2 linked regions of the Homo sapiens genome follow. The protein of the gene in region 2 interacts with the protein of the main gene of each other region in a pairwise test. Each region holds a gene or a part of one and is shown on either strand. Other genes may lie near its edges.

Region 1 (3,827 bases), on a different chromosome or scaffold from region 2:
AGCTGGGGCTACAGGCATGTGCCACCACGCTGGGCATTTTTTTTTAATTTTTTAATAGCGACAAGGTATCACAGTGTTGCCCAGGCTGGTGTCAAACTCCTGAGCTCAAGCAATCCTCCCACCACCACTTCTCCAAGTGCTGGGATGAAAGGCATGAGCCACCATGCCTGGCCATAATTCTGATGTAATAACATGTTCTCCTCATTCCAAGTAGCACAGTTGCCTTGGATAGTAACTCCCAGGTCATGGCTAAGTCCTCTACATTGTTAAAAGATATGTTAAATATTAATAAGTGTGAACATTGACTAGCTTTATAGTAATTCCTGACCCGATAACTTTAGGAAATATGAGGTTACTGGGTTTTTTGACTGCTGTTTACATCTCCAGTTATAAAAGTTTGAGAAGTCAATTGAGGAGTGAGGCAGATGTTAAGGTTAGAGATAAGAGTTGATGTTTGTCTCTGATTCCTTGGCTAGCCACTTTGTTTAAATGAAATTTATGAATGCACTGCTTACTTCAGTGGAAATATTTTGAAGTGTTGTCTTAGGAAGTATTGATGGTCCCTCAAGGACCAGACGTCAAATGCATGTGACTGTAGTTCAAAAGGTTAATTTCCATTTTAAGGAAAGAAGATTTTGAGTCTTAATTTTAATGCATTTTAGAAAGGCAAGTAAAAACATTTTGTTATGGTTTAGATATATTTTCTAGGAAAAATAACATAATAAATTTGAGTATATTTGGAATATACAAAATGAAAGCAACTGCAGTGTTTTGTAATTATTACCCATATCTTCTCCTTTTTTTTTTTTTTTTTTTTTTTTGACACAGAGTCTCGCTCTGTCGCCCAGGCTGGAGTGCAGTGGCGTGATCTCAGCTCACTGCAAGCTCTGCCTCCTGGGTTCACAACATTCTCCTGCCTCACGACATTCTCCTGCCTCAGCCTCCCGAGTAGCTGGGACTACAGGCGCCCGCCACCATGCCCAGCTAATTTTTTGTATTTTAGGTAGAGACAGCGTTTCACCATATTGGCCAGGTTGGTCTTGATCTCTTGACCTCATGATCAGCCCACCTCAGCCTCCCAAAGTGCTGGGATTACAGGCTTGAGCCACTGCACCCAGTCATTACCCACATCTTATTATTAAACAGCTCTATTTCTTGTTGTCAGAAACAGGAAAACGACATGTACATCTGAGAGAGGAGCAAAAAAAAAAAAAAAAAAATCAAATTAATTCGTCCCCAAACAATCAATCAAAATTGATGGCCCCTTAACATACAATTTGTAGGGCACTATAGTTTTCAAATAGAAGCAGTCTATAACATGGGCAGGAGGCTTTTGTATTTTTAACATTTGTTGAAGAAGCATTTGCTGAATTGGAAAAGTACTAACCTGTAACTCAAGATGGTGTCAGGAAATTAATATTCTTTTTTCCTGGCACTGCCTTATCTCTAGGACTAAATCTTAGCATATGTCAAGATTTGCAAGAAATGTAATAAAATTAGTTATATATCTGTATTTTAATACATTTGACTGCTTATGGCTGTGCAAAGTAGTATTCAAACTAGAATGTTCCATCGTAGAATCCCTAGCAATCTTTTTGGCATTAAAACATCCTTTTCTCACCCCGCTTGCTCACAAAAAAATCCCTTAGCTCTTTTCAAAGTAGTTTAAGTGATAGCAGATATACAATGTAATAGAATGAGGACAGATTGCAGAAATTTGAATTATGAAAGGAATCTAATCATTTTAGCTCAGTTAACTTGATTTTTATATGTTTTAAGCAGAAATTGGAATTTATATGAGGTGGTGTCAGAAAGCTCTTTGCATTTATAAATGCTCACTCCTGCAAGTTAAAACCCTGGTTCATAATTCCCACTTTGGGTCTTGGGAGCCACTTTTCAATCATTTCTCTCTGCTAATTTTGGTGTCACCCTCATTTCTTTTTAAACGATTCATTTTGAGCAAATTTGTAAATGGCCCTGATGTGTTCTACAATTTAGTCAATTACTGTTTCAGCCTGCAAGCCTCCTGGGGAACGGAACATACATGGCCTGAAGGTACGAATTTCAATAATTGTTTCAGTAAAGTTAGATGGATTTGTAATGCTGTGTTCCACTTATTGAAATGTCAAATAAAACTGCACTTTCTCAAGCTCTGACAAGCGATCCTTTTATTTTTTTTAAATGGGAGGTGGAGGGGGATTCATCTGTAGTATTTGCTCAGTATGTGTATATATTTGCATACTGGGGGTTTGGTACTGTATTTTCAATTATTTGGAATTGTTTTGTTGGTCAGTGTCTTCAGGATAATCCTAGGTGCTGGTATCTACAAAGATTTTAGTAAGAATATAGACTTCATTTCAGTGATTAATTAAGCACATAAGCATATTGCACATGGAATACCCTCTCTTGACATATTTATGCTAGAAACATATATCTAGTTAATGTCTTTTCATTCTGTGTATTTTGAATTCTGGATTTCTGTTTAGGGCTTCACATCTGAAAGAAAAGCTGGCTTTTGTATTAGGCTCAAATATTTCATAATTAATTATTTGGACCTCATTTTTTAGTGAATAAGAAACATTCTACATACAGTGTTCTGCTTGGTTGCAGAGCTGGAAGGATATAACTTGAGGTTCACTACTAACCCCTGGGTATATTCTTAATGTACTTTTTGAACATACTGTTTTTATATGTATTCTAGACAGTGAGTTGGATTTTCACACTGTTTATGTCTCCTTTTTCATCACTGTTTAAGTATTTAATGGAATAATGACAGGAATAGAATATTATGTAATGTATGGGTTATACGGTTTTGTAACCTATATACTGAATAGACTCCAACTGTGGGTTTGTCTAGCAACAAGCTAATTAACCTTCATAGTGAAATGAGAAATTTGTGGCAAATTATAGGTTAATTAGAACTGTGTCCTCAGAACACAAGACTGATCAAGATTCTTTCTTTACTTATAGGTGAATACTCGGGCCGGACCCTCTCAACACAGCAGCCCAGCAGTCTCAGATTCACTTCCAAGCAATAGGTGCGAGCGAGCAAGTAAAGTGTGCCCTTGATGTGATTTATCTACAGAGTTGGGGTGGGGTGGGGAAGAAGCTAGAAAGAAATTTGACCAGTTAGATAACCTAGCTACGTATTGACCAAAGAGAAAGGACCTCATATGGAAAGATGAATGTTTAGATTTAGACTGGGTGCTGAGAAGGCTCTCTGGGGAGAGTGACGTTTCTGTTTTGACCTGAAGAAGCAGAGAAGGGCGTTTCAGACGGAGGGAAGAGGGTAGGTGAAGGCCCTGAGGTGGAGAAGGAGCTCAGCATGTTTGTGAGTAGGCCAGTTTGGCACAGGGAGGGGTGCTGGGTTGGGGAAGGGATTTGGAGAGAGGAGATGAGAGAGCAATAGGAGTGATAGGAGCTAAGGAGGTAGACAGGACTTATCATGCGGGGCCTCGTAGGCCCTGTAATGTTTGAATTTTCCTTTTGGTGCACTGGCTAGCAGTTAGAGGGCTTTTAGTAGGAGAGGGACATGGCCAGCCCTGTGTTTTTAAAAGATCCTCTGCCTGTGGTGTGGCGAATGAGCAGAAGCTCCCATCTAATCCTGCCCTCCTTTAATGTTTGACTTCCTACTCCTTGCCAAATGGTCATCAAATCTCTTACTGAACATCCCTGTCGGAGGAATGCACTTTATCAGCCAACGCAGCTCCTTCCCTTTTTTACTTGGCTACATCTCAGAAGGCTCTTTTTTGTGAGCTGAGATTTGTCTTTCTATAGCGCCCACTCATAACGTTTTAGTTAAGCCCTCAGAACGTGGTTGTTCCCTC
Region 2 (2,559 bases):
ACGGCCTGAAAGCAACATCTGTAGCCAACAGGAAAGGGTTTCCTACACTTCTCCATGCGCTTACTTATCAAATACCTTCTATGCACTTATCTTCACAAATTATTTTACTTGTCCTGTGGTCTGTGTACCTTGTTCTATGTGGAACAGGGTGAGTCTAGCCAGGTTCACCTTCAGGATGCTTTCCCCATGCCCTGTGGTTGAGACGGCTCCGATGTCATTGTCGGCATAACCTCCAGCTCCTGCTCAAAAAGGGTGATTGTTCTGAGCAGTAACAGTCAAGAAATTCAAATCCATATTAGAAGTCGGACGCTACATGAAAGTTAAATCGCGAAGGGTGCTCAAGTACCGACAAAGGTCAGGTTAGTAGCCATGATCTGCGGAGGCAAAGGTGGACTAGAAAGCGTCATGTAGATGCCCCAGAATTTAGGAGGATAAAGGGAGCCTCAGAGGGGCAGGCCTGACCTTTCACAGAGCAGCTACAGCAGGACAGCATCTCCTTGGCCCCAAAGCACAGCCATTCCTTTTTGCTCAATGAAGCCACCCTCTCCCTGTCTCCTCCTCATGCCCCACACACTATGGAGGAAGAAACAGCATGACTGCATTATATGGATCTCTAGCAAGGCCATCATGTTCCAGTGATTTGGGGAAAATGATACCCACAACCTAACATCCATGCACACTGTCTAATGGAGGGCAGTTATATTTGTTGAGGGTGGGCATAATTGGACCTGAGGGAACTATTCTGGGCTATCCACTTAAGTGGGGGTCTGGAGTGAAAGCTACTTTGATAAGATTTCTTCCTTATTTTGGGCTTGGATTAAGCAACCTTACAGCCTTCTCTGAGTCATTCTTGTATCTGTTCACACACAGCTACCAGCCTCAGAGTCCTTTAGCCTTGGAAGGATTCGCCTTTACCCTCCCACAGTTGATACAGAAGCACAGAAGATTGACATTTGCCTTACTTATTGATGCTGGACATGGGGCAAGGACTCAGGAGTTGAGATGCTGCATTGGATTGTCACAAGGCCCCAGAGGTTCTCAAAGGCAGATAATCCCTGGCTCTGGTTCTGGAGGGAGCTGACACTGGACAGCCAATGAACTGCTGCAGTGGGAGGAGGCGCCTTTACTTTTTCTTATAAGCTTCTGCTGGGGAATTAACTGACCGGGTTCCATGGTGTCAAAGTGCCCTAATATTTGGAAGCAGCCAAGTCTTTGCTTACTTTTCAGTTACTCTAGGACCACAGAAGGCCAGGTGTCTCCAAGGGTGGTCCTGGCACAGGCATCGGGCGTGTGAAGCTGTCCTCCCCGCCACATGCACTTCTCAGGACAAGTGCATTGCCTGAGGTGACCACTGCTGAGCCTAGTACCGTCCCCCATGACTGTCCAGGCAGGGGCCTGGCCAGTGGCAGTGCTCCTTGGGGAGGCTCCTCAGAAGGCCAGGCAGAGCACACCTGGTGCTCACAGCTGGACAGAGAGTTCTGAGAATTTAGCTTATGCCTTTTCTTGTCAAGATTTACCACTGTAACTCAAGCTTAAAATTAATTTCTAGGATCTAACCTGGAGTGGCCCTGTGGCCTGGTCTGAACGCAGCTGAAGCAAGCTGCACTACTGACCAGGCACAGTTTGGTGGGATTTTTGCCAAGGAGAAAGAAAGGTAGACTACTTCACATCTCTTGGGTGATATACCAAGGAGAAGAGGAGTTACCAAGCCTCTACTCTTTTTAAGGAAGCTTCCAGTGTCTCTGAGTTCATGACAGAAAAAGGGTATCAAGAATTGTCGAGAGTGTAGATTATTACTAAAGACTAGAGCAACACATTAAAAAGGGAAGGTAGGGCTAGTTTTCCTCTAAAAGAATAAGCTGCTCTTTAGGGCAGATGGAACAATTTAGCTGCTTCTCAAAACTTCAGTCACCTGTGGGGGTTCATGAGGATTCCTGCATGACAAGTGTGAAAGTCTGCACGGAGTGAAACATACAGCCCCCCAGCCCTGCCTCTCACCCACTCCTGGGAATGAGATGGCGTGCTTCCCCGTTAATGTAAACAACATCTCAATCTATAATGTGTCTGTAGAAGTATGTCACTTTCATGCTGCTCAGATCTAACAACTGCAGTCTCAGATTTCTCAGATTGCTAATCAGAGCCCATGTCTCGGGAGTAAGTCTTACTCAAGTAAGTCTGCAGATCCTGAAACTGTGGCTAAAGAGAAGACAGAATCACGACAGGGTAGACTGGGGGCAACGTTAGCATCCCTGTCTCCACTTCTCTCCCCAAGTTGTTCCAAAAAGGCATGCAATCTAGTAAAAACAGTGGCGCCAGATACAAACACCCTCTCAAGGCAGCACCCCGAACAACCCCTTCCAACCCCATTGTCACTCCCAGACATCCTGGAGCTGCACCAAAAGCAGAAAGGGAACGCAGCAAGAAACGGAGAGGGGCAGGGAATAGAGAGTGAGGAAAGCCTGAGGGCGGGAGAAGAGGGGAAGGGGCAGGAGGCATCCCTTGGTCCTACCTAGACACGGTGAGTCCCCAACGCGGCCGACCATTTTATTAACGATACCG

The links.
Region 1: the proteins of ASRGL1 (region 2) and MAP2K5 interact in a two-hybrid assay, tested with the Homo sapiens proteins (one large-scale study listed by BioGRID and IntAct).

What each region holds. Positions count from the first base shown.
Region 1 is NC_000015.10:67,583,876-67,587,702, forward strand, and holds part of MAP2K5 (dual specificity mitogen-activated protein kinase kinase 5), read left to right. Parts: intron 1-2,014; coding exon 2,015-2,055; intron 2,056-2,970; coding exon 2,971-3,038; intron 3,039-3,827. UniProt on the Homo sapiens protein: Acts as a scaffold for the formation of a ternary MAP3K2/MAP3K3-MAP3K5-MAPK7 signaling complex.
Region 2 is NC_000011.10:62,389,202-62,391,760, reverse strand, and holds part of ASRGL1 (isoaspartyl peptidase/L-asparaginase), read right to left. Parts: coding exon 2,510-2,559; intron 262-2,509; coding exon of another isoform or gene 240-261; coding exon 129-239; exon of another isoform or gene 128-128; intron 1-127. UniProt on the Homo sapiens protein: Has both L-asparaginase and beta-aspartyl peptidase activity. May be involved in the production of L-aspartate, which can act as an excitatory neurotransmitter in some brain regions. Is highly active with L-Asp beta-methyl ester.